Linked DNA regions of Homo sapiens. The protein of the gene in region 1 purifies or fractionates together with the protein of each later gene. This does not show direct contact. Each region holds a gene or a part of one and is shown in the gene's direction. Other genes may lie near its edges. The genes, in order: MRAP2, STEAP3, RDH14, FGFR2, LTAP1, ACVR2A and MFAP3.

The links.
Region 2: the proteins of MRAP2 (region 1) and STEAP3 purify together in Homo sapiens (affinity purification with mass spectrometry; 2 studies listed by BioGRID and IntAct, with this or other methods). This does not show direct contact.
Region 3: the proteins of MRAP2 (region 1) and RDH14 purify together in Homo sapiens (co-immunoprecipitation; 3 studies listed by BioGRID and IntAct, with this or other methods). This does not show direct contact.
Region 4: the proteins of MRAP2 (region 1) and FGFR2 purify together in Homo sapiens (affinity purification with mass spectrometry; 2 studies listed by BioGRID and IntAct, with this or other methods). This does not show direct contact.
Region 5: the proteins of MRAP2 (region 1) and LTAP1 purify together in Homo sapiens (affinity purification with mass spectrometry; 2 studies listed by BioGRID and IntAct, with this or other methods). This does not show direct contact.
Region 6: the proteins of MRAP2 (region 1) and ACVR2A purify together in Homo sapiens (affinity purification with mass spectrometry; 2 studies listed by BioGRID and IntAct, with this or other methods). This does not show direct contact.
Region 7: the proteins of MRAP2 (region 1) and MFAP3 purify together in Homo sapiens (affinity purification with mass spectrometry; 2 studies listed by BioGRID and IntAct, with this or other methods). This does not show direct contact.

What each region holds. Positions count from the first base shown.
Region 1 is NC_000006.12:84,057,068-84,061,671, forward strand, and holds part of MRAP2 (melanocortin-2 receptor accessory protein 2), read left to right. Parts: intron 1-4,604. UniProt on the Homo sapiens protein: Modulator of melanocortin receptor 4 (MC4R), a receptor involved in energy homeostasis. Plays a central role in the control of energy homeostasis and body weight regulation by increasing ligand-sensitivity of MC4R and MC4R-mediated generation of cAMP.
Region 2 is NC_000002.12:119,247,199-119,251,802, forward strand, and holds part of STEAP3 (metalloreductase STEAP3), read left to right. Parts: intron 1-480; coding exon 481-1,008; intron 1,009-1,115; exon of another isoform or gene 1,116-1,873; intron 1,874-4,604.
Region 3 is NC_000002.12:18,553,732-18,558,266, reverse strand, and holds the end of RDH14 (retinol dehydrogenase 14), read left to right. Parts: intron 1-2,458; coding exon 2,459-3,076; 3' UTR 3,077-3,544; downstream 3,545-4,535. Other genes in the region: NT5C1B-RDH14 protein, read left to right, coding at 2,459-3,076. UniProt on the Homo sapiens protein: Retinol dehydrogenase with a clear preference for NADP. Displays high activity towards 9-cis, 11-cis and all-trans-retinol. Shows a very weak activity towards 13-cis-retinol. Has no activity towards steroid.
Region 4 is NC_000010.11:121,480,275-121,484,184, reverse strand, and holds part of FGFR2 (fibroblast growth factor receptor 2 isoform 1 precursor), read left to right. Parts: intron 1-381; coding exon 382-487; intron 488-2,007; coding exon of another isoform or gene 2,008-2,013; exon of another isoform or gene 2,014-2,361; intron 2,362-3,910. UniProt on the Homo sapiens protein: Tyrosine-protein kinase that acts as a cell-surface receptor for fibroblast growth factors and plays an essential role in the regulation of cell proliferation, differentiation, migration and apoptosis, and in the regulation of embryonic development.
Region 5 is NC_000001.11:154,208,142-154,211,430, reverse strand, and holds part of LTAP1 (protein C1orf43), read left to right. Parts: intron 1-3,289. UniProt on the Homo sapiens protein: General regulator of phagocytosis. Required to uptake Gram negative bacterium by macrophages.
Region 6 is NC_000002.12:147,913,785-147,918,388, forward strand, and holds part of ACVR2A (activin receptor type-2A isoform 1 precursor), read left to right. Parts: intron 1-1,406; coding exon 1,407-1,550; intron 1,551-3,498; coding exon 3,499-3,642; intron 3,643-4,604. UniProt on the Homo sapiens protein: On ligand binding, forms a receptor complex consisting of two type II and two type I transmembrane serine/threonine kinases.
Region 7 is NC_000005.10:154,041,556-154,046,159, forward strand, and holds part of MFAP3 (microfibril-associated glycoprotein 3 isoform 1 precursor), read left to right. Parts: intron 1-4,604. UniProt on the Homo sapiens protein: Component of the elastin-associated microfibrils.

The sequences.
Region 1 (4,604 bases):
GAGAGCTGATAAGTAGCAGCCCTTAGCTTCAGGAACCTGAAAATATATGCGACACATTGAGAACAAAAAATAAACAAACACAAAACCCCAGATATACAGGAAAGTGAAAAGATCAAGTCAACTGTTGAAATGTGTGCTCTGGTACAGTCTCTTTCATTTAAAAATGCTGTGACTCTGACCTTCAAGTATGACTCCTTGTTTTGCTGGGCAAAATTCAAAGCTAATTAGATGCAGATTCAAAAGAACAGAAGCAGGACATTTCAAGGGGAAGCACTCATTGCGGACAGGAATGACCATAACAGTTATCTTTATTTGCCTTACCTGTAATGGATCACACTTGGCAACAATAGCTCCATCTTTAGACTGAGTTCCTCTGCTGAAATTAAGATTCCTACCTTCAAAGGGTGTTTCATCTGAGAAGCAACCTCAGATGGTGCTTGAGAATTCTTTTGCCATCAGTTTTGAATCCAATATTAAACCTTATCATGTATCAGAAGTGGACATGTATCTGATACAGATTTGGCACCAACAAAGTGGAAACCTATTTATTTATTCATTCATTCAATATATATTTATTGAGCACCTGTTATGTGCAGTACTATTTTAAGCACTGGAGAGACAACAGTGAACTGAAAAGACAGAAATATTTCCTTGTATAGAGCTTGCATTCTAGTGGGAGAGACAGACAATAAATAGTTAAATAGATAATGTCAGATGGCAATATAAAAGGATAAATAGAGTGGGGGTAAAGGGATGTGGAGTGTGGAGGCGACAGTATAGAATTGCCATCGAAAGCCTTACTGAGAAGGAGAGATTTGATAAAAGACCTGAAGGAAGTGAGAGATTGAGCTATAATATATCTGGGGGAAGAACATCCCAGAAAAGGATCCTTGGCGGGAGTGAACTGGATCATGCAAGGAGGCCAGCGTGGTACCAGGGGAGTGATAAGAGGCAGAACAGCAGGAAACGAAGTCAAAGAGGCTGTGGGGACAAGGACATGGGGGGGCCTTAGAGGTCATGCTAAGGACTTTGTTTGGCCTTTTACTCTGAGAAGTCACTGGAGGGTCTGGAGCAGAGGAGTGCCATCTGGCTTAGGTTTCAACAGATCACTCTGCAACTGCGGAGTGAAAGGCATGAGATTAGAAGCAGAGACCATTCAGGAGGCTTTTGCCATAGTCCAGGCAGCTGATGATGGTGGCTTGGAGCCAGGTAGGGAGAGTGAAGTGGTGAGAAATGCATACATTCTGGATATTTTTAAAAGATGGATCTGGCAAGATTTGTCAATGGATTGGCGGTATGTGTAAGAGAAAGAAGAGTCAAGAATGATTTGAAGATTTATGACCTGAGTAACTGGCAGGATGGAATTGCCTTTAACTGAGAGGGGGAAGAGTATGGGAGAAGGAGGTTTCAGAGAGGAACCCCAGGAGCTCTGTTTTGGACCTGTTAAATTGAGACATCTATCACATATCCAGGAGGACAAGGGAGGAGAGGTGTCGGGGGAAGCCGTAGACTTGAGAGTCATCAGCATGTAAACGGTATGCGTTCAAAGCCAAGAGGCTGGATAAGTGAGTGTAGACAGAAAACTGAAGAGTCCAATGCTGAGCCCTGGGCACGCTTGTGTTTAGAAGTTGGAGGGTTGCATAGCAGCATAGGTGCCTGAGAGGAATGTACAGAAAGTAGGAAGAAAACTGGACAATTGTGGTTTTTTGGACGCCAACTGAAAAAAGGGTTGCAAAGACAGTCTGTGTCAAATGCTGCTATTAGGTCAAGTTAATTGAAGACTGAGATTTGACCATTGGATTTATAATGTAGAAGTTACTGGCAATGATTTGAAAAGCAGTTTTAGTGGAATGCTGGGGGTAAAAGGTTGATGGAATTGGTTCAAGAAAAAATGAGAGGAGAGGAATTGGGGACAGCATGTACAGACAAATCTCTCAAGTGTCTCACTATAAAGGGAAGGAGAGGAATGGGTCATTTATGAAGAGTGTGGCTGGGTGAGACAGGGTGTTCTTAAAGCATCAGAAGCAAAAGCTGATGAGTCAATGAGTGGACAATCACATTTTAGCAGGACCACTCTGGCCGCTGTGTTGAGAAAAGACTAAAGGAATAGCCTCTTAATTTGAGCTATCAGTGGTGGCCAAATTCATGCTTTTTCGTGTGCCACCTTGCAGATACCAGACCCATGCATGGATGGGTCAGCAAGAAGCCAGGTCATTAGGATGAGAAACAGCTAGAGTTTGCAAAGGCTTGGAGTAAGATAGTAGAGACAAGTGTGGGAACATCACTGTTGGCTCTTTGCCAGGAATTCATATCACAGAATTGGCCCTACTGCCTTAGGAACAAAAAGTGGTGTGAGGAAAGTGTCATGAACCTCTCTTTCAAGTGAAGTATTAACCCTTGTTTTTCATATAACCACGAAGTGGAAAGTTCACCATTTATTCTCAGGAGGTGGAGAGGAGGGTGAGTCGGATGGAGTAGTTAACCTAGTCCTACCCTAGATTGGGAAGGAAAAAAATCATGTCAACTTTCAGCTCTCTTGTTCCATTCCATTCATTAAAGGTTAGGTTAAGGGGGGTTACTTTATTCTGACGCATTCCATTTGCAATTCCCCTGGGCAATTGTTCTACCCCTTTACAATAGTAGTCTCTAAGTAGCTCAGTGTCTAGACAGGACAGAGTGTGGTAGCTTGGCGGTGGTGGAAACTCGTTTGGAAGGCTTCTTTTGACTTTCTTAACCATCTAGCCTCATTGGAGCTTTGCTCTGTATAAAGCTTTATTCTGACTTCTTCCCAGAAAAGGATGCTTTTGGGAAGACAACGGGCTCCACTTTTCCCATCTTACTGTAGTGCCTATGCCCATGAAACTTACATGTGAATAAAACTTCAGGAGAGTTTGGATATTTCTGGGATGAGATGGGGATCTCTGATGTTTCTTGTAAGAGGCTCAGGGTGAGAAAATCCCCTGGGGATGGGTCATAGGGCAGAAGATGAGGTTGGGGGAAATTAGTGGAAATAACTTGAGGAAGCTAAATTTTGTTCAAAGGGAAATGTGAATAAGCAGAGCTACTTAAAGCATATTGCCATGAAAAACATAGATGCCGCATTATTAAGGAAATGTTTGGAAATGCTGTTGGATCATGAGGATTCTCAGATTTTACCCACAGCCTGCCTCTCCCCAACTCTGCCGCCACCTGCCTTCTCTGAAGGCTGTAACCCTCCCATGCTTCACATTATTGCTGCTTTTTGATTATCTCCCTGGGGGTACTTAGAAGGGCAGAGGGAAGGGGGACTGGGCTGGGTTGAGGGCACGCTTTCCTCCACCTCTGGGAGTCAGTCCACCATTTGCAGTGTGAAAGCTGTCCTTAGGAGAACACCTTCCTAATACACAGATTTGAAAAATGTCAATCAACATGATTCAATTCTAAACCGAAGACTTAAATATAGCATTGGTGTATAATTTTAGAATTTGCTTTTGCTATGCAGGCAGTTGATAAAGTACAGTGTAGGGAACTGTTATTTATCTGTACAATGTTTCTTCACAGTCCATGCCTAGATAGTTGAGATTTAATTGTTTCATGTTAGTTGTACCTCAGTACATGTGGTGTTTGGTATTTGTCCTTACATCTTTTTTTTTTTTTGAGACGGAGTCTTGCTCTGTCACCCAGGCTGCAGTGCTGTGGCGCGATCTTGGCTCACTGCAAGCTCCACCTGCCGGGTTCACGCCATTCTCCTGCCTCAGCCTCCCGAGTAGCTGGGACTACAGGCGCCTGCCACCACACCCGGCTAATTTTTTTTTTTTTTTTTTTTGTATTTTTAGTAGAGACGGGGTTTCACTGTCTTAGCCAGGATGGTTTTGATCTCCTGACCTCGTGATCTGCCCGCCTCGGCCTCCCAAAGTGCTGGGATTACAGGCGTGAGCCACTGCGCCTGGCCCTTATGTCTTTTTTTATGCCTCATTTCTACTATATTAAAAGGCAAAGTATACAATTTCTATTTCTTTGGCACTTAAGGTTAGACACATTAGTTTTTCAGAGTGCTGAATACACATTGTTAACCTCTAGGCAATAGTATATGTAGGATGAAAGTATGAATTATGCAGAGTAAATTGTTAATCTGATTTCTTCACTTTGGAAAAAGTGCTACATATACATAATTTAATTAGAATAAAGCTTTGCATTTAAACACATTTAATATTTAAGCTCTAATCACTTATTTTTAGAAAATTGCTAAGCATCCTCATTGTATTTCCACATAGACAAGCTTCTTAGTGTAGGCCAAAAAATGTAGAATGATTCAACTCTGTTGTGTCCTAGATTTGAGGCCTTATTGTGCAAGTACCAAGTTCTGTAGACAATCCAATCTAACCCTGGTCCTAGAGATAAAGAATTGTGATTGTTATCCAAGATAGGACCAAGGAGAGCCCTGTTTAGGGAATTACAGACAAAAATGTTATTGGGTTCAAAGGAGGGAGACAACACATCAATTATGGAAATTAGTTGAGGCTTAGTAGATAGTGTAGCGGATGGACTTGGAAGGATGGATACACTTTCATTAGCTCCACGTTGGGAAAAGTTGTTCCAGCCAGGTAGTGGTAAGAGCCCTGGTA
Region 2 (4,604 bases), on another chromosome or scaffold:
GGCTCTACTGAGCCGAGGGACATCATCAAGGGGGGTGATTCTGAACTGAGGGATGGAGCTGCAGCCACAGCTGCCCATTCTGCACCATACGCAAAACTCTTTTGCTGAGCGGCTCCCAGGGCAGGCCACGGCCTTGGAGACAGCCATGTCGGGGGCCCATGGGGACTACCTGGATGAGCATTTTGCTTGTGGTTGCTGATGTCCACGAGCTGGGCAAGATGCTTACTGTTTGCAGCTTCCCTCCTTGAGTAGTTGGCCTGGCTTGGCAGGTGGGCCAGAGGCTGGGAGGCCTGGGCAGCAGAGAAAAGACCCCTAGCCTGGGAGCTAGAACCCCATTGGCTCCCACCTGTACCATTGACTGGCAGCTCACTTGAACAAGTCCCTGCCCCTCTGGCCCTCGGTTTCCTCAGCTGCTCAGTGAGGCCCTGCCCACTCCTGTGGCCTGTGACGCCGTCTGACTGCCCCACTTTTCTCCCGCAGGTGCCCATCTGCGGTGACCAGCCAGAAGCCAAGCGTGCTGTCTCGGAGATGGCGCTCGCCATGGGCTTCATGCCCGTGGACATGGGATCCCTGGCGTCAGCCTGGGAGGTGGAGGCCATGCCCCTGCGCCTCCTCCCGGCCTGGAAGGTGCCCACCCTGCTGGCCCTGGGGCTCTTCGTCTGCTTCTATGCCTACAACTTCGTCCGGGACGTTCTGCAGCCCTATGTGCAGGAAAGCCAGAACAAGTTCTTCAAGCTGCCCGTGTCCGTGGTCAACACCACACTGCCGTGCGTGGCCTACGTGCTGCTGTCACTCGTGTACTTGCCCGGCGTGCTGGCGGCTGCCCTGCAGCTGCGGCGCGGCACCAAGTACCAGCGCTTCCCCGACTGGCTGGACCACTGGCTACAGCACCGCAAGCAGATCGGGCTGCTCAGCTTCTTCTGCGCCGCCCTGCACGCCCTCTACAGCTTCTGCTTGCCGCTGCGCCGCGCCCACCGCTACGACCTGGTCAACCTGGCAGTCAAGCAGGTACCCACCCCATGCCCTTCCTCCCTCTGGCAACTCAGCACATGCTTGTCCAGCACCTCCCCCCCCCACCAACCAGGTGCAGCCGATACCCACGGGTGCAGCCTTACCAGGTGCCAACTGCAGATTCTGTTCCAATGGGGCAGCACCCACATCCTCCTGCCCAAGATTTTGAGTATCAGTGAACAAAGCAGATGAAAATTCCTGCCCCCATGGGTACAGCCCAGTTGGGGCAGACTTAAACAAAATACAGCAGTGAGTCATAGTGGGCGTTGAGAGGATCAGGAGTGCTAAGGCGCAAAGGAAAGCAAGCGTGGGCGGTGGGGGTGCAGGTTTGAAGATGGTCCAGGAGGACTTGCAGAGTGAGTGCTATGTGAGCAGAGCTGGAAGGAGGGGAGAGGGGCCGGTGGCCTGCTGGGGTGATGTTGCAGGCCACGGGGCATAGTCCTTGGGCAGAAGTGTGCCTGGTACGTTGGAGGAGCAGCCAGGAGGCCCATGTGGCTAAAGCTGAACAAGGAGGGGGTGGCAGGCGAGGCCTGAGAGGAAGAGCTTCAGCCTTAGGCTCCGAGTGAAATAGGGAGCTGGTGAAGGTTTGAATTTAGGTGTTGATCGGCCTGACATTTTAAGTGGTTCTCTCTGGTTTTTGGCTGAGAACAGACTGTAGGAGGTCAAAGGCAGCTAGCTGCTGGGGCCAGCGAGGAAGCCGTGCATATGCCCAGATTTGAGGCAGTGGAGGCTGGAGGCAGTGGGAGCAGTGGAGGAGCAAGGAGATCCTGAAGGCACATGTGAAGCTGGAGTGCATGGAATTGCCGCTGGAATGGCCCCAGGGTTTTGTGGGTGATCAGGGATGACTCTGGGGTTTGGGTCTGAGCACCTGAAAGAGAGAGTTGCCATCAGCTGAGATGGGGAAGGCTGCAGGAGTGAGCATTCCAGGTTTAGGTTTGTTGTTGTTGTTGTTGTTCTTTGTTTGTTTTACTGGGGGTGGCACTAATCATTCATTTAGAAAATTCATATGGGGCTTGGTTGCCAGCAGGGTTCCTGGGAAGTGGAGGACCTTCAGGCCACACCAGGTGGGGACCCAGGCATCAGCTGGCACCTGTGCCCACAGAAACAGGCCCCTGATGCTCCCTCCTGGTCCACAAGCTCATGGGGCTTGATTCTTAGTCCCAAGCTCACATCTTCAGCAACACTGTCTTTATTTTCTCCAAATTAATTCCACCTCCAGTGCCCAGCCCCGGGGCTGGTTGATGCATAGGTCCTGCCCACTCCAGGACGCTAGTCACCCAACAGGGTTCAGCCCAGGTGCTGGTGAGACACTTCTCATCCACCCCTCATTCCAGCCTGGCAGCCCCTGCAGCTCCTGCTCCTGCTCAGAATGCAGGGACCTTGGTGAGGCTGGGCCCTCCCCTAAACACCTAGCACAGGGCCATCCCCTCCGAGCATGGGGGATTGGCAGGACTGGGAAGCAGGGCTGGGCACCTCCTGAGAACCACAGACCTCAGCCCCTACTCACTGTCAGGGTTGCTGCTTCTCTGCCAGCAGCTACTCGACTGCCCTCGTCCTTTGCCACCCACAGATACCGGCATCATTGCATCTGTGGGCTCAGAATTTCCTAAGACAAAGGAAGAACCCCAGACTTCAGGCAGAAAAGCAAGATGCTTGATGGAAATGAGAGGAAGGGAAGAAATCAGTCATGAACCCTTAACAAGAGCTCGCTGTGTTCCAGGAACCATTCTAAGAGCTTCGTACACCACTGTGAATTCATTTAACCCCATCTCATCCCTGTAGGCCAGGTGCTATTATATCCTTATTTCATAGATGAGAAATCTGAGGCACAGAGGGGTCAAGTAACTTGGCCAAAGTCACACAGTCAGTAAGTAGCACAGCTGGGATTCAGATCCAGCTATTTTCCAGATCCATGCTTATACCCACGCTGCTTTCTACAGGCAAACCAAATTCACAATTGAGTAAATGATTTCAGAACTAGGTCATTCATTCACTCATTCACTGAGCACCTACTCTGCCAGGCCCTGGGGCCACAGAAAGGAGTAAGAAAGACACAGACCATCTGGCTCCTCGCCTCAGCTGGTGTGGGGCGGTGTGGAGGCCTGAAGGCTAGAGGCTGGACTCCTGCTCTCCAGCATCGCTGACTGGAACAAAGATCTTGACCTTGAGCAAGTCACAGCCCCTCTTTTGTCCTCGAGGCCCTGATGTGTAGATCAAGCTCTCTCCTAGTGCTAATGTTTTCAATGCTCTTTGACGATATTTTCTTACTGACTTCTACAAAGCACCAGCCCCTTGGCAGGAGGCTCTGCGGGGCTCCCTGGGGACTAGTACAATGTTGCTGCCCAGGACGGGGCAGATCTGCATGGAGGAGCCCACTCCCTCTCCCCTGAGCTGGCAGGTATTTCCAGCAGCAGTGGGAAAGACGGGGACGGTGCCCACTACCCCCCAGGGTAAAAGACACACCACTGCTCCCTCCCTCCCCTGCCACCCTTCAACTGCCTTTGTCTAAATTCTCTGCCCTGCCAAGGCTCTCCCTGATATTCTGTTAACCCAATTCTGCCCTGATGCAAATACCAGGGCACAGAGGGGCGCATGCAAGGTAATTTTCCCCGTGTCCCAAAAATCTTTAGGGCTGCAGGCCCTGGTGAGGTTGCCAGGCAACCATCCCTCCCGCAGGACGAGATCAGTCAGAGACACCGAAGGCCTCTCATGCAAAGGGGCTTAAACTTGTTCTGCAGAGTTCTTAAGGGCAAAACCAGGGCTGATGTGGTTATGTCGGGGTGGGTGGTCGGAGGGAGGCAGGGGCTTGACACACAGCAGCCCAGATACGGGGAGGTGCCCAAGCCTGGGCACATCCAAGCAGATTCTGGATGGTCCATGGTAAGCCATGCCCGCGGTTCTGGGCCTGGGCACCTGAGGCTGTTCTGCCTTCAGCCCCAAACAGCAGGGACTCCTGGGTGGCTCAGGCTTGATGTGTGGCTTCTGCTGCCAGCCCATGGGCACCTCACCACAGGGTCCCCACATGGCCACTCACCACCCCAACTGCCCACTAGGCCCTTGGGTCAAGGGAGCACATTAGTCTAGGCACAAGAAACTCCTCCAAGATTTCCTTACAGCCCTGAGTCTGCAGATTAGGAGGCAAAGGTGTATGCCAGCTGTAGAGAAAACCTTTGAGACCATGTTTACAGACAGTATTATTACCAACAATAACCGATATTTGTACAGGGCATTTGGATTTGCTTGTGTATTTCCCTGGAAATACACATTTCAACATCAAACTCAAAGATCAAGATCAAAGAAATGTTTAACCTGCACACTGTTCTCCTGTTACCTTCACCCCGTTCTCCTATTACCTTCACCCCAAGCTACATCTGCACATGGCTGGCACAGGATGGTCTGAAACTCTCATCTGACCATGTCACTGCTGAAAAGATCCAGTGACCCCAGTGTCCTTGGGATAATGGTAGAACCCTCACTATGCAGCTAGACTCCCTCCGCAGCCTCATCTCCCCTTCTCCTGTGACGTGTCAACACTTGGGTCCCATACTGTCCTCTAAATGGGCAGAGCTCATTCCTCTCGGCTTGGAACGCCC
Region 3 (4,535 bases), on another chromosome or scaffold:
GGAAATGTATCTCTGTTGGTCATTACACCAGTGTCTGAAACCTTGGAATCAGATTGGACACTTCCACCCTCATTTCCTGTTCTAGGTAGATTTTTAGCATTGTTCTTGTTTTTTATTACAGCAACTGCTAACAGCTGCTTAAAAGTCAGCTCCACAAAGAAATAATGTCATTGAAAGGAATATAGCACAATGTAATGTTCAAGCTGTGAACCACCTGGAGCTAGTAGTTTTGAGGTATTGAGCAAATATCACTGTGTTTCCCTCGAAAATTTAAAATATTCCACAACACCCTGAGAGTTTGCTGCAATGCTGTAGGCCACAGTTCGGGAGCTGTTGCAGAACTAGAGAGTTGGTTTTTTGTTTATTGCTAGTATTTAATTATGTGTAACACAGGTTAAGAAATAATACTCATCAGTGAGATTTTGGAAGCATTAAAGATGGATCTTTCTGTTCCTCTTTAAAATATAGATGGGGCTGGGTTTGCTTCTTTGGCACTTGAGGCAGAACTAATTAAAAAGTGAGGACACAAAGAGATAATTAAGTTGTCCTTGCTTCTAAGTAAGTATTTCTGTTCCTGCCTGGCTCTGAAGTTAAGTGACTATAATTAGAAGGAAAAAAAAATGGAAATGTAGATTTCCCACAGGTTGGTATTCTTGGTATTTATTTCATTTATCTCGTAGAATTTAAAAAAATAGTAAATGACAAAATTTTAAAATAACACAAGCCCAGCAAAGAATGCTGGATAACAAATGATTAATTCAGGAAAATCTTCCAAAGGATTTGTGAAAAAGAATACTCCTTTCTTTCCCCCATGAGTGAACTCTTGCCTTCTTTTTGAAGTTGACTATTGGAAAACCCAAAGATGCTTAGACAGGGCAGAATGAGAAATAGTTAATCCTCTGACAGGTGGGCTTCGATAACAGTTGTGAAATGTAACACATTTTTCTTTTCACTTATAGTTGGCAGAAGGGCCAGTGAAATTTGAAAGTTGACCTCATATTAATCATGGGTCATCACAGTGTCTTTACACTTGGAACATGTGCATTTCTTTGTCCATCAAAAGAAACAGAACAACCGAGAAAAGGCTAGAGAAGACCATCTTACATGATTTAAGGAATAAAAAGACTTCCCTATGAGAACAGTCTAAATTTTAGGACTTTAATTTGGAAAGATACAGAAGCATAAGTTCAGAGTATAAAATGTTGACTGTACAGATCTCCTAGAGTCCCCTTTACGCTGGATATTTTTATATTACCTGATTATTTTTTTCTTAATCTTTGATTATTCTTTATGAATCTCGATTTATTCATGATGTTCTCTCCAGTGTTAAGTTTGCATTTCTGACCTTTTCTATTGCTTGTTTCACTTTTAAGGAAATGACTTGAAGTTGTTCCACCCCCATGGTGCCATTTACCCTGAGAGAACTACAGAATAAAGCAACCATAAGTTTGCCCTTGGTGTTGATAACCAGTAGCTCTGGGAATAAACTATGCTTACCTGTTTTCTACAGCATATGGTCTGTCTAGCTTTCATTGCCTCTCTAGCTGTTTTGAAAATCCCAATTAGAAAGCCATGCCAGCTTACTAATTAAGAAAATAGGCCTTGGTGTCAAAGACTTCATCTTCAGATCTGATCTTATTTTGCTACTTAGGAGTTCTGATACTGGGCAAGTCACCTAGCCTGTGAGCTTCATTTGCTTATACAGTTGTTGGAATTAGATGTGGTGACATGCGAAAAGCACAAAGCCTGGCTCCTATCAAGCTTCTGCATCTATTTTTTTTTCTATTTTTCTCTCAATTATTGGAAGCTCATAGAAGCATTTTGGGATAGAATTTTAGTAGTTTGCAAGTATTTTTAAACATTTTATCATAGGTACACTTATAATTTTGATATGATCTCAGTATTAACCTGATAACTCCCAAATTGATATTTTCCTAGTTCAACTGAAATTAAAGGGAGAAATATGGGATTGTAGGAGTGCCTTGTCCTCAAATTGACTGTATTTCTGTTTTGAGAAAGATCTTGGTACTGATCACGTAGTCAACTTTCTAATGCAATGTTAAAGTTTATATATTTGTAAATGTTATTGTTATAAAAGCATAAAACCAGAAATTAAGTCTTAGATTTAGTTTCTACATCTTTTATTGGAAGATGACTGTAGATAAATATCTTTCTGTATATCATTTTAATAAATGAGAAAAAAGAGCTGTTGAATGAAAGATCATGAACATCAGTATTTATCTGAGGAACATCCTGCGGAGGAATCCCTTTCCCCATTTATTAAACACAAAATTGCCAGTGTTTCAAGTAGTTCTCTGATCGATAGACCAACAACTGAAATTAAATGCTTTTAGTCTCAAGTGCCCATTTTTATTAAAATGTAATTATCATGAACAGAAAAAGCAATACAAGGCGTGTGTTCTTAATAATTCTGCCATTCTCTTTTTGACATTTAAAGGAAGAGCCTAGGCTGGATGTCTTGATCAATAACGCAGGGATCTTCCAGTGCCCTTACATGAAGACTGAAGATGGGTTTGAGATGCAGTTCGGAGTGAACCATCTGGGGCACTTTCTACTCACCAATCTTCTCCTTGGACTCCTCAAAAGTTCAGCTCCCAGCAGGATTGTGGTAGTTTCTTCCAAACTTTATAAATACGGAGACATCAATTTTGATGACTTGAACAGTGAACAAAGCTATAATAAAAGCTTTTGTTATAGCCGGAGCAAACTGGCTAACATTCTTTTTACCAGGGAACTAGCCCGCCGCTTAGAAGGCACAAATGTCACCGTCAATGTGTTGCATCCTGGTATTGTACGGACAAATCTGGGGAGGCACATACACATTCCACTGTTGGTCAAACCACTCTTCAATTTGGTGTCATGGGCTTTTTTCAAAACTCCAGTAGAAGGTGCCCAGACTTCCATTTATTTGGCCTCTTCACCTGAGGTAGAAGGAGTGTCAGGAAGATACTTTGGGGATTGTAAAGAGGAAGAACTGTTGCCCAAAGCTATGGATGAATCTGTTGCAAGAAAACTCTGGGATATCAGTGAAGTGATGGTTGGCCTGCTAAAATAGGAACAAGGAGTAAAAGAGCTGTTTATAAAACTGCATATCAGTTATATCTGTGATCAGGAATGGTGTGGATTGAGAACTTGTTACTTGAAGAAAAAGAATTTTGATATTGGAATAGCCTGCTAAGAGGTACATGTGGGTATTTTGGAGTTACTGAAAAATTATTTTTGGGATAAGAGAATTTCAGCAAAGATGTTTTAAATATATATAGTAAGTATAATGAATAATAAGTACAATGAAAAATACAATTATATTGTAAAATTATAACTGGGCAAGCATGGATGACATATTAATATTTGTCAGAATTAAGTGACTCAAAGTGCTATCGAGAGGTTTTTCAAGTATCTTTGAGTTTCATGGCCAAAGTGTTAACTAGTTTTACTACAATGTTTGGTGTTTGTGTGGAAATTATCTGCCTGGTGTGTGCACACAAGTCTTACTTGGAATAAATTTACTGGTACAAATTCTTAACTGTGCATTTCTTTGGAGGCTTCACTGAATACAGTCCTTTATCATGTCACCATTAGCCTATGCTGATCTTGGTCTGCCCAGTCTCTTCTTGCCACGTATCTTGTACACTGCTCTGAGAGATAATATTCCTAAAACCCAAATCTATCACATTCCTGCTTAAAAAACAGTGGGTTTTGAGCCTTAAAAAAAAAAAAATTTGGCAGAATTCTTTCTTCAAAAGCGGTGTTTCACTGAAACGTAGAAGCTGGAGGGGGTAAAGCAGGTTATCGCAATGCTGCCAAGGTGGAGTCCCCCACGGCAATTCCTAAAGGGATTTCATAGAATATAGTGGTTTATAAACCACTTTTATTTAGACTAAAGATTAAACTGTTGAAGATAGAGTTGAGGCTCCATGAGACAGCACCATGCTTACCCTATACTCTCATACTCAGCACTGTTCAGTAGAACTTTGCAGTGAGGAAAGGAATACTCTGTGTTGTCTGATGTGATGGACTCTAGAAACATGGGATTATTAAGTACTTCAAATTCAACTGAGAACTGAATTTCTAATTATATGTAATGTTAATTTAAATAGGCACATGTCTAGCAACTGGTATCTTGGACAGTACATCTCTGGTCATCCCATCAGATAATCCAGTCCTGATTTTAGAACAGTCACCTACTCACTTGCTTTGGGCCTTTCTTTATATTGTTCTTTCAGTCTGGAATGCCATCTCCTTTTTCCTTGGAAATACGACTTACCCTTCAGGTTCCTTTCAAATGTGTTCCTTTCTCCAGCCCCCGTAGGCAGAGACAATTCTCTCTTCCTACTTTTTTTTTCCCCCTTGATCTTGGTACTTTTACTAGGAGTTTAGTGCACTAATTATTCATTCACAGGTTCAGTCAGATAATCAGAATAGAAATTCTCTAAGGAAAGGAGATTTATTTTATTATTAGCTTTCCTCCATCAAGAATCAAGTATAGTGCCCAGCACACAGTAAAAAATCAGTAA
Region 4 (3,910 bases), on another chromosome or scaffold:
TGGGCAGGGTGTCAGGGGAGGGAAGACTGGAGACCAGCCCATGGAAATACGCATTTTCCTTCAGCCTCCAAAGCATCTTTAGGGTGTGACGCCATTGTGAGATGTCACTGTGGCCCAGGGTTACCAGGGAAAACACATAGCTGTGTCTTTCTTGATGGCTTCGATGCCTTTCTAACATGTTTTTGTAAGTCAAAGTGCCTTTCGGAGGAACTGGCAGGGAAGCTTTTGGGAAAGTGATTCATGACCCCCTAATCTAGTTGCTTGGAAGGTTCTGATGCATTTTCCTAATTTACACCACGTCCCCATATTGCCTATTAAAACTGACTATAACCACGTACCCAGTGCATATGAAATTAATTCAAGGAAATCCATTTTTCCCAGGTACATGATGATGAGGGACTGTTGGCATGCAGTGCCCTCCCAGAGACCAACGTTCAAGCAGTTGGTAGAAGACTTGGATCGAATTCTCACTCTCACAACCAATGAGGTAAGAACTTCCTTCTAGAAGCCCCTTGTCCTTGGTTGTCTTGTGAGACATGCGTAGTGTTTTACACACACACTCCCCTGTTGGCTGTTGGTTGGAGTCTGTGGTCTTGTTTATTCTTTTTCCATAGGGTCAGATAGTTCAACTATGGGTTCCTCTCAAATCATGATTTTTCTCAGAACTTCATTTTGTGAGTTCTGACTCATGAAACCAAAGACAGAGGGACATCCCCGAGGCTGCCTTCAGTGTAGCTGCTGGTGGAGCAGTCCGGGGTATGTGGGAGAGTGGGAAAGGGGAAGCAGTATTCACTTGCATTTTGGTGTGCATGGGAAAAAGCTTGGATTCCTGTGCAAGTTTGATTCTGTGCTTTGGTCATTAGTGGGTAAACTGATAATGTTCGTCATCATTTGCTTGATGGAATACAATGAAGTTTTCTAACACCAGCTTCTGTTACCACAGTACTATCCTATGTGATCCTGTTGGTAATGCTATATGCCTTGCAGCCTCTTTCTAGGTGTATATAAACATACACTGTTTTCTACAATGAGCAACTTACATGATTTTTACATAAAAACATGTACCTTTTGTTAAAATATTTATTTTCCCTAAAATATTTATGCTCTCGCCTGTAATCCCAGCATTTTGGGAAGCCGAGGAGGGCAGATCACCTGAGGCCAGGAGTTCGAGAGCAGCCTGGCCAACATGGCGAAACCCTGTCTCTACTAAAAATACAAAAATTAGTTGGATGTGGTGGTATGTGCCTGTAATCCCAGCTACTTAGGAGGCGAGGTAGGGGAATCGCTTGAACCCAGGAGGTGAAGTTTGCAGTGACTGAGATTGCGCCACTGCACTCCAGTCTGGGAGACAGAGCAAGACTTCATCTCAAAAAGAAAATAATAATAATTTATGATCCTTGCCAACAAAATAAACACTCGTCTGTCACTCACTGTGCAAATTTAGCCATGTCAGTGGCTCCTTCAATATGCAGATAGAGTGCCTTTTATAATTATGGAAAGCATATGCTCTGAGCAGGAAAGATGATAAACCCATCAAGTCTAGTCAAATCTTAAGATAGAGAAATTGTTAATGAATGTATTTTGAGATATTTAATGAGGATGCACAATAGTGTTCTTTTACACAGGAAACTAACTCCAAACCATGCAATTGTCTCAACAAGAAAAAAGTTAAAGTCCCCCAAGTATTTTAGAAGGAAAATAATACACTTAATTTCTGATTTAGGAAATAGTTTTAGAGTGATTTTTTAAAAAGTAATAATCAAATGTAGTGATATGAAGTCTTAGCTCAGCAGCTTTATCTTATGCGTCTGACTGTGGCCTGTGCTGGATAAAGGAAGAGATTGCACTTAAATGAATACAGCTGACCTTCAGAAGTTGAAAGGAAAGGAACGGTTCAAGGGGGGGAAGAAACCAACTTTCTTCTTCTGCCAAAATTGTTGTTTCTAGTATAAGTTCCTTTAACTGTAGACTTGGAATCTACTGATATCCCTGTTTTTTTCCTATCAGATCTGAAAGTTTATGGCTTCATTGAGAAACTGGGAAAAGTTGGTCAGGCGCAGTGGCTCATGCCTGTAATCCCAGCACTTTGGGAGGCCGAGGCAGGCGGATCATGAGGTCAGGAGTTCCAGACCAGCCTGGCCAACATGGTGAAACCCTGTCTCTACTAAAGATACAAAAAATTAGCCGGGCGTGTTGGTGTGCACCTGTAATCCCAGCTACTCCGGGAGGCTGAGGCAGGAGAGTCACTTGAACCGGGGAGGCGGAGGTTGCAGTGAGCCGAGATCATGCCATTGCATTCCAGCCTTGGCGACAGAGCGAGACTCCGTCTCAAAAAAAAAAAAAATAAAAATAAAAAAGAAAGAAACCGGGAAAAGCACTAAAGTTCTATTTTAATGATCTCATGTCTATGCTCAAAGTGATTTATTTATATATTTACATGTAGAGTGGGTCCGTTGATACTGAAATTTGTATCTAGTACCCTAAAATAAAAAAGCAGAATGCCATATTGTCTGGTGGATATAAAAATCGAAGTTTCTTTCCTTCTGAAAATCATTACCATATGCTCAAGAAAAACGGTTCCATTTAGGACAAAATTTCGTTTTTATCATTGTAAGCAAAAAGTTCTCTTTTGATGTGGTGGGCGTGTTTGTTTCCAGTTGTGTGGTTAATGCTGATGTTGTTGGAACTGATACATTCCCCTTCTGGGATGCTGGGATGGGGACTCTTTCTCTTGCCAACCCTGGTGATGAATTAGAGGGTTTTGTGTGTGTGTGTGTGTGTGTGTGTGTGTGTGTCTTTAAAAATGTCTAGTTGCCAACATTCCATGGGCTCTTTTCTGATAACACTGAGGCTGTTTGTGCTGTGGTCTGCACTTTTTGCCCCCTCTCAGCAAAACCACATGTCATAGAATAGTTGTTGGCTTCTGGATGTGTGAGCAGAACTGCCCCACTGTGCCAGCCCAGTGGAGGCAGAGAGACCCACAAGTTCCCAATTTAGAAAGCTTTTCATAGCTTCAGAACAGGGGTCGGCAACTGCTTTCTGTAAAGGGCCAGGGAGTAAATATTTTCAGCTTTGCCGGCCCTGTGGTCTCTGTTGCAACTTCGCCACTGTAGCCTCAAAGTAGCCACAGACAATATGTAAATAGATGTGTTCTAGTCTGTCTTCTAGTAAAATTTTATGGATCCTGAAATTGGAATTTTATATAATTGTATATAAATTTTATTCATTTTAATCCTATAAGATATTCTTCTTCTTTTGATTTTTTTTTTCAACCGCTTACCAATGTTAAAGACCATCTTTAGCCCTCAGGCCATACAAAGTCGTCTGTGGGCACCCAAGTCGGAGGAAGTGTCACCCTGGGGTGATCCAGAGGGCTTTTTGCAGCACCAGCACTGGATGCCTTGGGGAGCAAAGGACACTTTCTGAATCTCGAACCTTCAAAACTTTGAAACTTAACCGATATTTTCCTGAAGTTTCCTTTAACAGTGCATTATGGATTTAACATACATGAGTATGTCTAAGCCTTTTTTGAACCTGTTTACATTTTCAACTCGGAGAGCTTCTGAGAGTAATCAGTTACATCTGTTAAATTACCCACTGAATGAAGAAGTATTCCCCTTCAATTATCCCCGAAACTACAATAGTAAAATGTAATTCAGAAAATAAATATTCATAGTCTCAACTACTTAAAGGGGGTCTGGGGACCCACAACATGTTACCGGTTTTCATTTTGCTGGGGCTCGCATTTGAAGCAAGGGCTCTAGTGAGGAGGTGGTGTAGACTCAGCGGGTTATTTAGGTCCGTGTGAAGCCGAGTTGCCTGCCCAGCACCTATAGCTCAACTAGGTTTTATTGTTCTCTACCTGTCAATAGTTGATTTATGATGGATTCCAAGAGAAAAGCTAAGGACA
Region 5 (3,289 bases), on another chromosome or scaffold:
CAGGAGGCAGAGGTTGCAGTGAGCTGAGATCACGCCACTGCACTCCAGCCTGGTGACAGAGCAAGACTCCATCTCAAAAAAAAAAAAAAAAAAAAAAAAAAAAAAAGAATTAAATAACATCTATTTTTGGCCGGGCGCGGTGGCTCACGCCTATAATCCCAGCACTTTGGGAGGCCGAGGAGGGTGGATCACAAGGTCAGGAGTTCAAGACCAGCCTGGCCAACATGGTGAAACCTCGTCTTTACTGAAAATACAAAAATTAGCTGGGCATGCTGGCGGGCTCCTGTAATACCAGCTACTCGGGAGGCTGAGGCAGAAATCACTTGAACCCGGGAGGTGGAGGTTGCAATGAGCCGATATCATGCCATTGCACTTCAGCTGGGGTGACAAGAGCATGACTGTCTCAAAAAAAAAATAAAAATTAAAAATTAAAAAAATCTATTTTTACTACCACTTAAAGTATTAGTAACCATGTCTGAAACAAAGGCCATCGCTATAGAGTCAGCTGTTGAGCATTTGTGTCACAGGAGAGGATTCATGGCTTTTGTTTGGGAATGTTTTTAATACACACTAAACATAGTCTCGTATTTTCATGCAAATGTTAAAATCAAAGTTCTTGGCGAGAAAGGAAAGCCAATCTAGAGTAAAAACTTAGGCCGGGCGCAGTGGCTCACACCTGTAATCCCAACACTGGGAGGCCGAGGCAGGTGGATCATCTAAGGTCAGGAGTTCAAGACCAGCTTAACCAACATGGTGAAACCCCATCTCTACAAAAATACAAAAATTAGCCGGGCATGATGATGTGCGCACCTGTAATGCCAGCCACTCAGGAAGGTGAGGCAGGAGAATCGCTTGAACCTGGGAGGTGGAGGTTGCAGTGAGCCAAGATCGTGCCATTCCACTCCAGCCTAGGCGACAGAGCGAGACTCCATCTCAAAATAATAATAAACAGTTAGTTACCAGCCATAAAAATAATCTGTTTTCTGCTATGTTGAATATTGCTCTTTTTCAAGAGCTTAAGGGGTATGTCTCTCCTGTCTTCTCTCTGTCCCTAAAAATGAGCTACGTTGTCTTAAAAGATGAAAGGGCCAAGGCCTGGAGCAGTGGCTCACGTCTATAATCCCAGCACTTTGGGAGGCCAAGGTGGGCGGATCACTTGAGGCCAGGAGTTGGAGACCAGCCTGGCCAACATGACAAAACCTCATCTCTACTAAAAATATAAAAATTAGCCTGGTGTGGTGGCACATGCCTGTAATCCCAGCTATTCCAGAGGCTGAGGCAGGAGAATTGCTTGAACCCAGGAAGCAGAGGTTGCAGTGAGCCGAGATTGTGCCACTCCAGCGTGGGTGACAGAGCAAGAGTCTGTCTCGAAAAGATGAAAGGTCCTAGTAAAAACTGCTTAGAAGGCCAGCTGCAGTGGTTCGTACTTGTAATCCCAACACTTTGGGAGGCTGAGATGGGTGGATTACTTGAGCCCAGGAGATTGAGACCAACCTGGGCATCATAGTGTAACCCTGTCTCTACTAAAAATAAAAAAATTAGGCCAGGTGTGGTGGCTCACGCCTGTAATCCCAACACTTGGAGAGGCCGAGGCGGGCGGTTCATGAAATCAGGAGAGCGGGAACATCCTGGCTAACGTGAAAACCAGTCTCTACTAAAAATACAAAAAAAAAAAAATTAGCCGGGCGTGGTGGCGGGTGCCTGTAGTCCCAGCTACGTGGGAGGCTGGGGCAGGAGAATGGCATGAACCCAGGAGGCGGAGCTTGCAGTGAGCCAAGATCGCGCCACTGCACTCCAGCCTGGGCAACAGAGCAAGACTCCATCTCGAAAAAAAATTAGCTGGGAGTGGTGGCGACCACCTACCTGTAGTCCCAGCTACTCAGGAGCTGAGGTGCGTGTACCACTTGTGCCTGGGAGGCAGAGGTTGCAGTGAGCCAAGATCATGCCACTGCCCTCTAACCTGGGCAACAGAGTGAGACACTGTCTCAAAAAAAAAAAAAAAAAAAACTGCTTAGAGCACTGATGAAAATGAACATGTAGAAAGGCTGGAAAAGGGCATTTGGTCTAGAAGTCAGCAGAAGCCTGTTCAAAATTCACTTTCTTTGAAAGATAAATACTAGATGATTCCAGTTATATGAGATACCTAGGTAGTCAAACTCAGAGACAGAAAGTAGAATGATGGTTGCAGGGGCTGGAGAGTGGGGGAAATAGGGAGTTGTTCACTGGGTATAGTTTCAGTTTTGCAAGATGAAAATGTGGAGGTTGGTTGCACAACACTGTGAATATACTTAACACTACTGAACCATACATTTAAAAATTCTTAAGATGGTAAATTTTATGTTACATGTATTTTACCACAATCTTTTTAAAAATTATTTCTGAAGGCCAGGCATGGTGGCTCACGGCTGTAATCCCAGCACTTTGGGAGGCTGAGGCGGGTGGATCACCTGAGGTCAGGAGTTCAAGACCAGCCTGGCCAACATGGTGAAACCCTGTCTCTACTAAAAATAGAAAAATTGGCTGGGCATTGTGGTATGCACCTGCAATCCCCAGCTACTCGGGAGGCCGAGACAGGTCGCTTCAACCTAGGAGGCAGAGGTTGCAGTGAGCCAAGATTGTGCCACTGCACTCCAGCCTGAGCAACAGAGAAAAAGACTCCATCTCAAAAACAAAAAATTATGTTTGATTTGTAGTTTCTAGGAATGTTCATTGGGTTTAGTGAAGAGTATAGGCTTTGAAATCTGACAAACTTAGGTTTGAATCCCAGGTCTGTCACTTAACTAGTTTTGTGACCTCATACAAGCTAATTATTGGACCCTTAGTTTCCTAATCTGCAAAACAAGGTGATACCTATATTGGGGATACCTGTCTCTGAAAAAAAAGCTTGAGCCAGAGGCAAGAACTCTGGGAAATTGGTTTCTCTGCTGCTAGTTGTTTTTGGTATGAGTAGGTGTGTGTCAGGGTACCCAAACAGGGCCTTTATTCTGTCACCCAGGCTGGAGTGCTGCTACTTTTTTAGGGTGTGTGTGAGAGAGAGAGACAGGGTCTCAGTCTGTCGCCCAGACTGGAGTGCAGTGGCACATTCATGGCTCACTGCAGCCTCGAATTCTGGGTTCAAGCGATCCTCCTGCCTCAGCCTCCTGAGGAACCAGGACTACAGGTGCTTGCCACCATACCTGGCTAATTTTTTGCAGAGATAGGGTCTCACTTTGTTTCCCAGACTGGTCTCAAACTCCCCTGGGCTCAAGCGATCTCTGGCCTCTGCCTCCTGAAGTGCTGGGATTACAGG
Region 6 (4,604 bases), on another chromosome or scaffold:
CATGTTTTGAATGTGGGAAGGACAAGCAACTTGTAGACAAAAAAAAAAAAAAAAAAAAAAAAAAAAAGTCTGAGTTTGAAATGAGTCACAAGAAGTCTTTTGTTTTATCTTACTGTTTAAACAGGAATTCTAAAGCCATTTTATAAAGATGGTTTCATTTAGAAGAAGAAATTGCATGTTTTTCCTACATAACACCTTGCAATGTTTCTGTTGCTGAGGTTCTTTCTAGTACACAGTAAACTTTTAAAACTCCTGAGTGGCACCAGTGAGCTGAGTGATGCCTAAAGAAAGCACTAACTGTCTTTGAGGCATTAGAAGAAGAGAGAAAAAGAAAGGCAGAGAGGATGCATTGATCTGGGATCACATACCATTTCCAAGTGTCTGAGGTGCCACCCAGTGTCATCATATCAGTTGCTTTTGCCACAGAAATTTTAGTTCCTCCTCAAAATACTCATTATGCAGCCCTCCAAACCCTTCTGTTGCTTTTCTCTGGAAGCTTTCCAAAAGGCTTCCTGCATCTTGCTTTAGTTGCAGATAGGGAACTGAGAGAATGCTTTCAATGGAGGGTTGCATTCTGCTTTGATAGGATTTCCTTGTGATTTGTAGATGCTGTATTCCTATTTATATATTATGTTTGCTCTATTTTTAAAAAACTATAGCAGTGCACGTTTCTTTCATTTACCATATCCTGTTATCTACTATGATGACCACTTCTTTTCTGGATTTTTATTCGTACTTCTTTGCCAGTCAGTCAGTTCCAGAACACAAATGATTTTTTATCTCAGATCAAAGGGATGAATTGTTAATATGTTTAAAATTAGAATGAACCAGTTTGGTTAAAGAAATATTTACTTACATATTTCCTGTATGTGCTTTGTATTTGATATACCTATCTGCAATGTGTTTAAGAATGACTGCCGGTATCTCTGAGATTAATGAAGAAAAAATTTAAACAGTCACTGGAGAAAGTAATAGATCTTCAGGAGAGGTTTTTGCTGATATATAGTCATAATTTGCTGTTTCTGGCACTTTTCAAATCATCCTCCTCGAAGTACACACTGGATGAAACAAATGAAATATTGTTAGGAGTATTTCGTAGTTCACAGAAAATCTTAGTGGGGAATATTACTGAGACTGATCAGAAAGATTTTAGATCTTCTCTCCTGTGGTACATATATAGCAATAATGCTGAACATTATTATGAAACTCTGAATTCAGGTTGCCTGCCTTGTGATCACTATAGATAATTAGTAATCTAATTATGGCAACATTGAAGTTAATGTCATTCATATGTGTTTACTGTTTCTGTCAGTTGACTTTTCAGTATACTCACTTTTTTTCTCATTTTCAGAGTTGGTGTGTGTCATGTTCTGCTTATTTATAGTATTATTATTATTTATCTGTAGGACCCAGGACCACCCCCACCTTCTCCATTACTAGGTTTGAAACCACTGCAGTTATTAGAAGTGAAAGCAAGGGGAAGATTTGGTTGTGTCTGGAAAGCCCAGTTGCTTAACGAATATGTGGCTGTCAAAATATTTCCAATACAGGTATGTTTATTGCAGTTTTGTCATCTTACATACATGTTTTATGGCTAGGTCATCATAACTCAGAAATAGTCTCAAAACAGAAGCCATATGTACCAAGGTGGTTCTTTGTGATACTGGGGAAAGCAGTTAGCTCTTTTAATGCCTGCCTTTGCATCTGAGAAATGGAATTGTTAATATAACAATCATTATGTTTGTCTGGAGTGGTGGAATTAAATGAATGCATAGTAGATCTTTTGCCAGTGAAAATTCTAATAGAAATGTTAAATAAAGATAAAGATTCCAATAAACAAGTCTAATTGAGTGGTTAAATTTTAATATCCCCCTACGTTGTCAGAGAAAGCAAACAAAAAAACAAAAGAGCAGTATACTTTGTTTTAGAATTGGTATTTAGAGGTATATCACCAGACTTGACTTACTTTCATTCTACTTTGAGTGTTTAATTATTTCAGTTTTTGTTTGATGCATTTTCAGAGGCAATCGAGACTTCAAATAATTGGTTTACTGTTGAATTGTTTTTAAGGTTGGCTGGACTTCTCATAAAACTCTGATCTAATGTACCTCTGAGCTATTCTTGTGTTTTGTTTTGTTCCGTTGGTGGTATAGATTTATGATGATTCTGTCTTCCCCATCTCTTGCTTATATACCCTGGCAGCTCATGATACCCTTGGTACTGACGTCTTGGCTGGATTTGGTGTTGCAGGCTCTACCACCATACTTAGAGAGTGGATGTTTCTTTTTCCAAAGTTATCATATAAGCAGTTTCTTTGTCTTAATATACCTAGATTTTAACCTTTTTACCTCCTCTGTTCAATCTTACCTCCTCTGTTCAGTCTATAAACTGTTTACATAGAGTTTATGAACTGTATTACATTTTTTTTTGGTAGCTGTAAACCACAGTTTAGTTTTCAGAGAGAAAGTGTATTCTGTTGTGCCAAGATTCATAAATAAGATAAGGGAAGAAATTATTTCCATGTGTAAGGAAGCATAAAGCTCAGAGAAAGGCATTTGGATGATATTAACAAGCCCGACAACAGCAACAACAGTAGCTAACATTTTATTGTATGCTTTTATTGGGTCAGGTAGGGGTGTTTTACATATATGAGTACTCACTAATATGTGTACGTATATTACCCACATGTACATAAAATGCAACATATAATACAACAATTCTATAAGACAGACACTACAATGCCTTTTCTACTTAATGAGGACACTGAAGGATTATGTAACTTGCCAGAGGTTAGTGGGAGAGCCAGGATTTAAGTTTGGACAGTTTGGATGCAGAGAGTTTCTAAGGGTTTCTAACCATTATGCCATAGTGCCTCTTACTATTATTGTCTTTTAGTAGTGAAAAGAAGCTAATCTTTTATAAGTAGATACTTAGTAGACATGGATTGCTTGCAGGCACAAGTGAATATATGGTGTCTTAAATTATTGCATTGCATATCTTTGCCCCTTGCTTTCTCATAGACCTTGTAGGGTATGCTAAACATTTTTTGAAGGATGTTTGATATTATGTTAGTTTTTGAAAAGAAGAAGTTTTCTATTTAGAGGAAGTCATTCTGCCGGAATTTCATCTTTCAAGGAGATTATTCTGAATAGTACCACAAGTAACTTCACACCATGATGAAATTACAGTGTAATACTTGCAGTAACTTACGTGTTGCCATTGTAAGACACAGAATGCAGCATTTCCGATCACCTTCTGTGTTTGTAAACTAGAAACACAGAAAAGTACGTTTTGAGGGAATGAAAAGGGCAGGCATTTAGTATAAATTTGTTAACCTATTGTCAGAGCTTTTTCTTATTACAAAACAGAACAAAAAATTTTTTAAGACTTTTTTGTTTTGTTTTGTTTTACTTTGGAACTTATTTGAGTAATCTCTTATGCATGGTTTATTAAACCTGTATTCCTTGTGTTCTTACTATTCTTTCTTTTTGACTCTAGGACAAACAGTCATGGCAAAATGAATACGAAGTCTACAGTTTGCCTGGAATGAAGCATGAGAACATATTACAGTTCATTGGTGCAGAAAAACGAGGCACCAGTGTTGATGTGGATCTTTGGCTGATCACAGCATTTCATGAAAAGGTAAAACTACTTAACGTTTTACTTTAGTAAAGTCTGAGTTGGCCTGCCTACCTAATGCTGGCTATAAATCCCTCAGAGTTATTTTTCGAGACATCTTATAGTTGATTAATATTTAACCTGAAAATAAAAATCATTCTTGAATAAAAATGTTTTAAAAGGTAGTTTATTTTAATAAAAGAGCAAAGATGGCAACTTTTTAACCTAAAACTCTACTCATATAAACCACCCTTTTGTTCCTTATTTCTTGTGCTGTAATTACTCTTACAAACATTTATTTTAGTGTAGGTAATGCTTAGTAATTTTCATTTACCATTTACAATTCATTTTGATTACGTGAACCATTTTTTTAAGTTTTAATCAGTCTTGCTTGTGACAAAACCAGAGTCAGGAAATTTATCTGATCTTTGATCTGTCACTAACTTGCAGGGTAATTATCACCAAAATGTAATTGCTAGTTTTCCTCAATTTTTCTACTTTTAGAGTCAGTGTGAAAGTACCATTAATGAAGTAGGAAATTATGTTTTTGGTAATTGGTTTCATCATTGTGAAATGTAAGTGGTTCTTTTACTTCTCTTATCTTGACCTAAAGGACAACAATAATCTAGAGGAATATTCTACATATTAGTTGTTATTTTATGTTGTTATTTTGTGTTCTGCTAGTCCCATGATATAACAACTCTATAGTCAGGATATTTTAACTTTTAAAATATTTTCTAGAACCTTAGATTTTCAACTAGTCTTTAAAAAAAAAAAAAAACAAACTTGTCTTATAGATTGGTGGAAGTTGACTATTCTTGTAACAAAAGTTTAAAGCTCTGGTATTTCCTTCTGGTCAAATGTTTATTAATGTGAAATGGAAGGAAATTTGAACCATTTGAACCATTCCAGAAAGATTGTTTCTTGGATATTATTTTTCCCTGAAAGGGAAACTCACAACCTCTTATAGGTAAAAAGAAAAGTCT
Region 7 (4,604 bases), on another chromosome or scaffold:
CATGACTTTCTGTTCTGCTGCCTGAATCTATTCTTGGAGAATTACAATGCCAAATTGGAATTTTAAGCTTATCTCATGGGCAGTGAGAAATCACCAGTAGATTGTAAAATTACCCTGAATTGCTCAGATTTGTGTTTAGGACCAATTCTGAGTGTCACAGTGTTTGGATACATCATAGAGGTAAAAGGAGTTAAGGAGATCCATTCTGAAATTAAGGGGATAGTGTGGTATACCCAGGTGAGATAAAAGGATATGAGTTAGGACAGAGACAACAGGACTTAATTGAAAAATGTGTAGGAGGTGGAATAATAACAATAGCATATATTTATAATTTACCCACATTAGTTCATCTTATCCTCAAAACTACCCTATGATGCAGTTACTGTTAATATTATTTTATTTAATAAATGTGAAAACTAAGGCCTTGCAAGCCTATGGCTTCACCCAGGGGTAGGATCAGGCACCTTAACTCTAGAGCCCATTCTCCTAACCACTGAGCCATGATTGTCTTACAATTTTGATACTGCAAAACTGGAAGAATTGTCTGGCTATTATCTAAGCTGTTCATAAGCTGAACAAGTAGATCTGAGGGTAAGAGGAGTTCTGTTTTAACTAGACTGAGTTTCAAATAGAGATGTTTCAGACTATAGAGGGGGAAAAATGGCCTGGGAAGATCATAAATCTAAGCCTGTTTCATTGATGTTTTTGTCATTTGCATCCAGTAGCTATTCAGCAAATATACCTATGGCAAAAAGGATATAAGTTATGGGTATAACTGAAATAATCCTGGGTTTAAAGCAAAGCTCTGATAAATACAGACGATGTTTCTCCAGGTGCCAGAAGATATGTTGAAGTTTGAGCTCAGACTGACCAAATGCTAGTTATGGGGTATGTGATAGCTCCAAGGTAGTAATATAAAGGCTATTTTAATTAGAAACTTTTGAGTAAATGGCCCTCAGGATAGTGATTTCTGTTTGAATGTCACTAACCTTTTTTAGTTACAGATCCCTATAATAATGCTTGAGTCTAGGCAGAACAACTTTGTGTTTATTCTTTGCAAAGGGTAGGGTAGTGCTAACAACCTGCTCTTCATTTGCTTTTTCTCCCCTTTGCCGATTCAGAATGCTGCTTTGTCAATTTGTGTGCCTGCTGTAGGAACTGGTCCGTTTTCCAAGTGTGACAGTGCAGGCAGAGAAGGGTGGATGAGCTGTAAATGCAGCCTAGAACACATTTGATTATAGAGAATGAAGCACTAATATCCCAATATAATTGGAGTTTAAAAAAAAAAAATACCACCTGGGCATCAATGTGTTTCCCTGCTTTGCATTTTCCCAGAACTATTTCTGCAAACATCAGTTTCCTCAGCCAACTTAATATTGAGTCACCAGAACGGAAATCAGCCATATTACTTCCTTATTTGTGTTGAAAATTGGAACAGAATGGAAATATTTCTTCCCTCAGAAGTTGGCAGGAACGGCAACAAGACAATCTGTTAGGGGTGACAGCTATAGGCTCTTCTCTTTTTTAAAAATAATATAGTCAATATTCAACATGGTTTTCTGGGGTAAAATCATCCACATTTCTGATTCTTTATGATCCTAGCAAAGCTTACATTCTGTATACCTGAAAGATGAAAAAGGAGTTGGATTAAACTTGAGTCTTACACTTATCTATTACATTTTTATTTATTAATGCTGAAGAAAGGTAATATAGGCTGGGCGCGGTGGCTCACGCCTGTAATCCCAGCACTTTGGGAGGCCGAGGCAGCCAGATCACCTGAGGTTGGGAGTTCAAGATCAGCCTGTCCAACATGGAGAAACCCCGTCTCTACTAAAAATACAAAAAATTAGCCAGGCGTGGTGGTGCATGCCTGTAATCCCAGTTACTTGCGAGGCTGAGGTGGGAGAATCGCTTGAACCTGGGGGGTGGAGGTTGCAGTGAGCCGAGATCTCACCATTGCGCTCCAGCCTGGGCAACAAGAGCGAAACTCCGTCACACACACACACACACACAAAAAGGAAAGGTAATAAAAAATTTTATCAAGTAACTTCATCCACAAACATAGTATAGCCCTTTTTAACTGATAAGAAGAAGGTGACACTTTGGTTTTCCTTTTTGAAATCTGTTCTTGGGTTTCAAATGTCAGCTGCTACATTAAAAACAGCAGGCATAATATATATATATATATTTTTTTTTCCAAATACAAATGCACGTACTCTTGTGTCTCCCATGGCATCTAATATACCTGCCTTAATGACCTCAGCCCACTTAACTGATTTGGTGAACAATTCTGCATCTGAGGCTGTATATGTGAGGAAAAATTAAAGGATTGGAAATGAAAGTAAAATAACTATAGTATAAAGGATCATATGTTCAAAGCATGCAGGCCTAATATTATAGGAAGTCCCAAACATATAAGTGAATTGCATTCCTAGAACTGACACATTTGTCTTTTCTCTGTTGCATTCACAATATAATTACATTTCAGTCACATTGTCTTAGATACAGTTGGCTGTTTCTGGGCTGTCTTTCAAGCTGGTTTGTAAATTCCTGAGGGTCTAGGACAGTGTCCTAATTCTCCTTAGCAACTCTTGCACCACCTACTGTACTTCATCTTCCACGATGGATCCTTGACCTAGCTGAGCTGTAGTTTTAAAGTCATTAGTCTAGAATGAGCAGAATGGTCATAGTCAATGCAGTTTGTGCTGCAAGTAGCAGAAACCCATTCAAGCTGACTTAGCAAAAAGGAGACTTAGTGTGAGGAAATAATAGTACCCTGATACCAAGGATGATTTGTTCTTCCCTCACTATTTTTTTCTGCTTTGTCACCTTCTTGGACACGTATCTTTGCCAGTGTTTTCTCTCACAGCTGCTGAACAGCCTGTTACCTGCAAATGGGTTATATCCGTTAGTCTTTCAAATCAGAAGTCCTCTGTGTTCAGGATGTACATGGTATGAGTGAAGTGCCCAGTATTAACTGGATGTGTAAGGCTATTGTGCAGCCTCTTTCTCTTGTGGCTCAAAATCAGTGTGCCAGGTTTCTTCTGCCATGTTTGGCCTAAGAGCAGTTTAAGGGAGTTTATAGTGTTTTCCTAAATCCTGTCTGGTAGGTAGAGGCAAATGGCTATGTCTGTACAACACAAGAACCACAAATCTTGGCCACATGGGCAGTTTGCTTGCCACACTCCACTGTGTAAGGAAGAGACTAGAGATCTATGATGAAGATTGCCTGGCAGCCACAGACACAGTTCAATAACTTTTTGTGAACTTAATCTTTTTTCTCCTGCCTAACCATTTCCGCATTTATTACGTGTTTGCACATTCATCTTCACTTTTGTGGTTTTAATTTTGAGTAAAATTTAATAAAGTTGTTTCTTTTTTTAAAAAAAAAAAAGGGTCACAGGAGTGCCAGGAAGTAGAATTCTATCAGGCACCAAAGCACCATGTATGAGTCTCTCTTTGTCTTTCTCCTGCTCCTCTTCCTGTCTTCCCACTCTCTCCCTTCCCCATCCCTCTTGTCCTTTCTTACAGCTTCTCCTTGTATGTGGCCCAAACCTGACTGCCTCAGCCCCCACATGCCTCCTTTTCCTCAAATGACCCTGACCCACAAGGGTCTCAATTCCAAGTTCCAAGAACAAAGATTCTATTAGCTTACTTTGCCAATAGGTTGTCTTCCTCCTAGACCCAAGAAGATAGGGATAGGGCTCAAAGAGGGGAGCCGTTGGGTAAGTAGATCACGACAAATCTTCTCTACCACAAACTGAGGACACATACAATGTCATATCATGGTTGGGATCCAAGCTCAGTTTACAATGCCTATATGCTCCATAATATTGCAAAATATTTGCAATGAGAAAAAGAAAAATGTGAAATTTTAAATTTAAGATTAAAACTGCATAATGGTGTCCCCTTCCCCCCAACCCCCAAGATTTTTAAATGGTTGCATGGTATTCTGAGTGTTTTATAATGATGTAACTATCAAATGTAAATTTTAGTTCAATATCTGAAAGAACCATGAACAATAATAATAGAGCTTATTCAGTGATTACCATTGCCAGACTCTGTGTTTTATGTATACTACCTCATTCAGACTTTGCAATAATCCTGTGAGAATAGATTCTGTTATTTTGCCCATTTTAAAGATGAGGGGCTGAGGCAGGGAGATTAAGTCATTTATAAAAGTTGCAAGGCTGGTTAGAGTCACAGATCGTATTTGAATCCTATACTCTGAACCTCTCTGCTACCCTGCTCTTATTAGAGACCTTCAATTTTGCTGATCTAGAGTAATCTAAATCTAGAATGGAATGTGAGTGATTATATCTCTCATTGGAAATATTCAAATAGCCTGAAGCACCATTCTGCAGGTCAGTTGCAGAGGAAATTGAGGAACTGTATTAGTGGCCCTTAGATGCAGTACATGAATCCAATGCCTCAGAAACACCCAGGGAGCCAATTAAAAGTCATAAATTCCAAGGCGCAAACACAGAGTTTCTTACTCGTTCTGGGTTGGGACCTGGGAATCCATATTTTTAAAAAGCTCTCCTGACAGTTGTGATATTCAACCTGGTTTGGAAACTGCACTTGGTGATCTTTTATTCCTACCA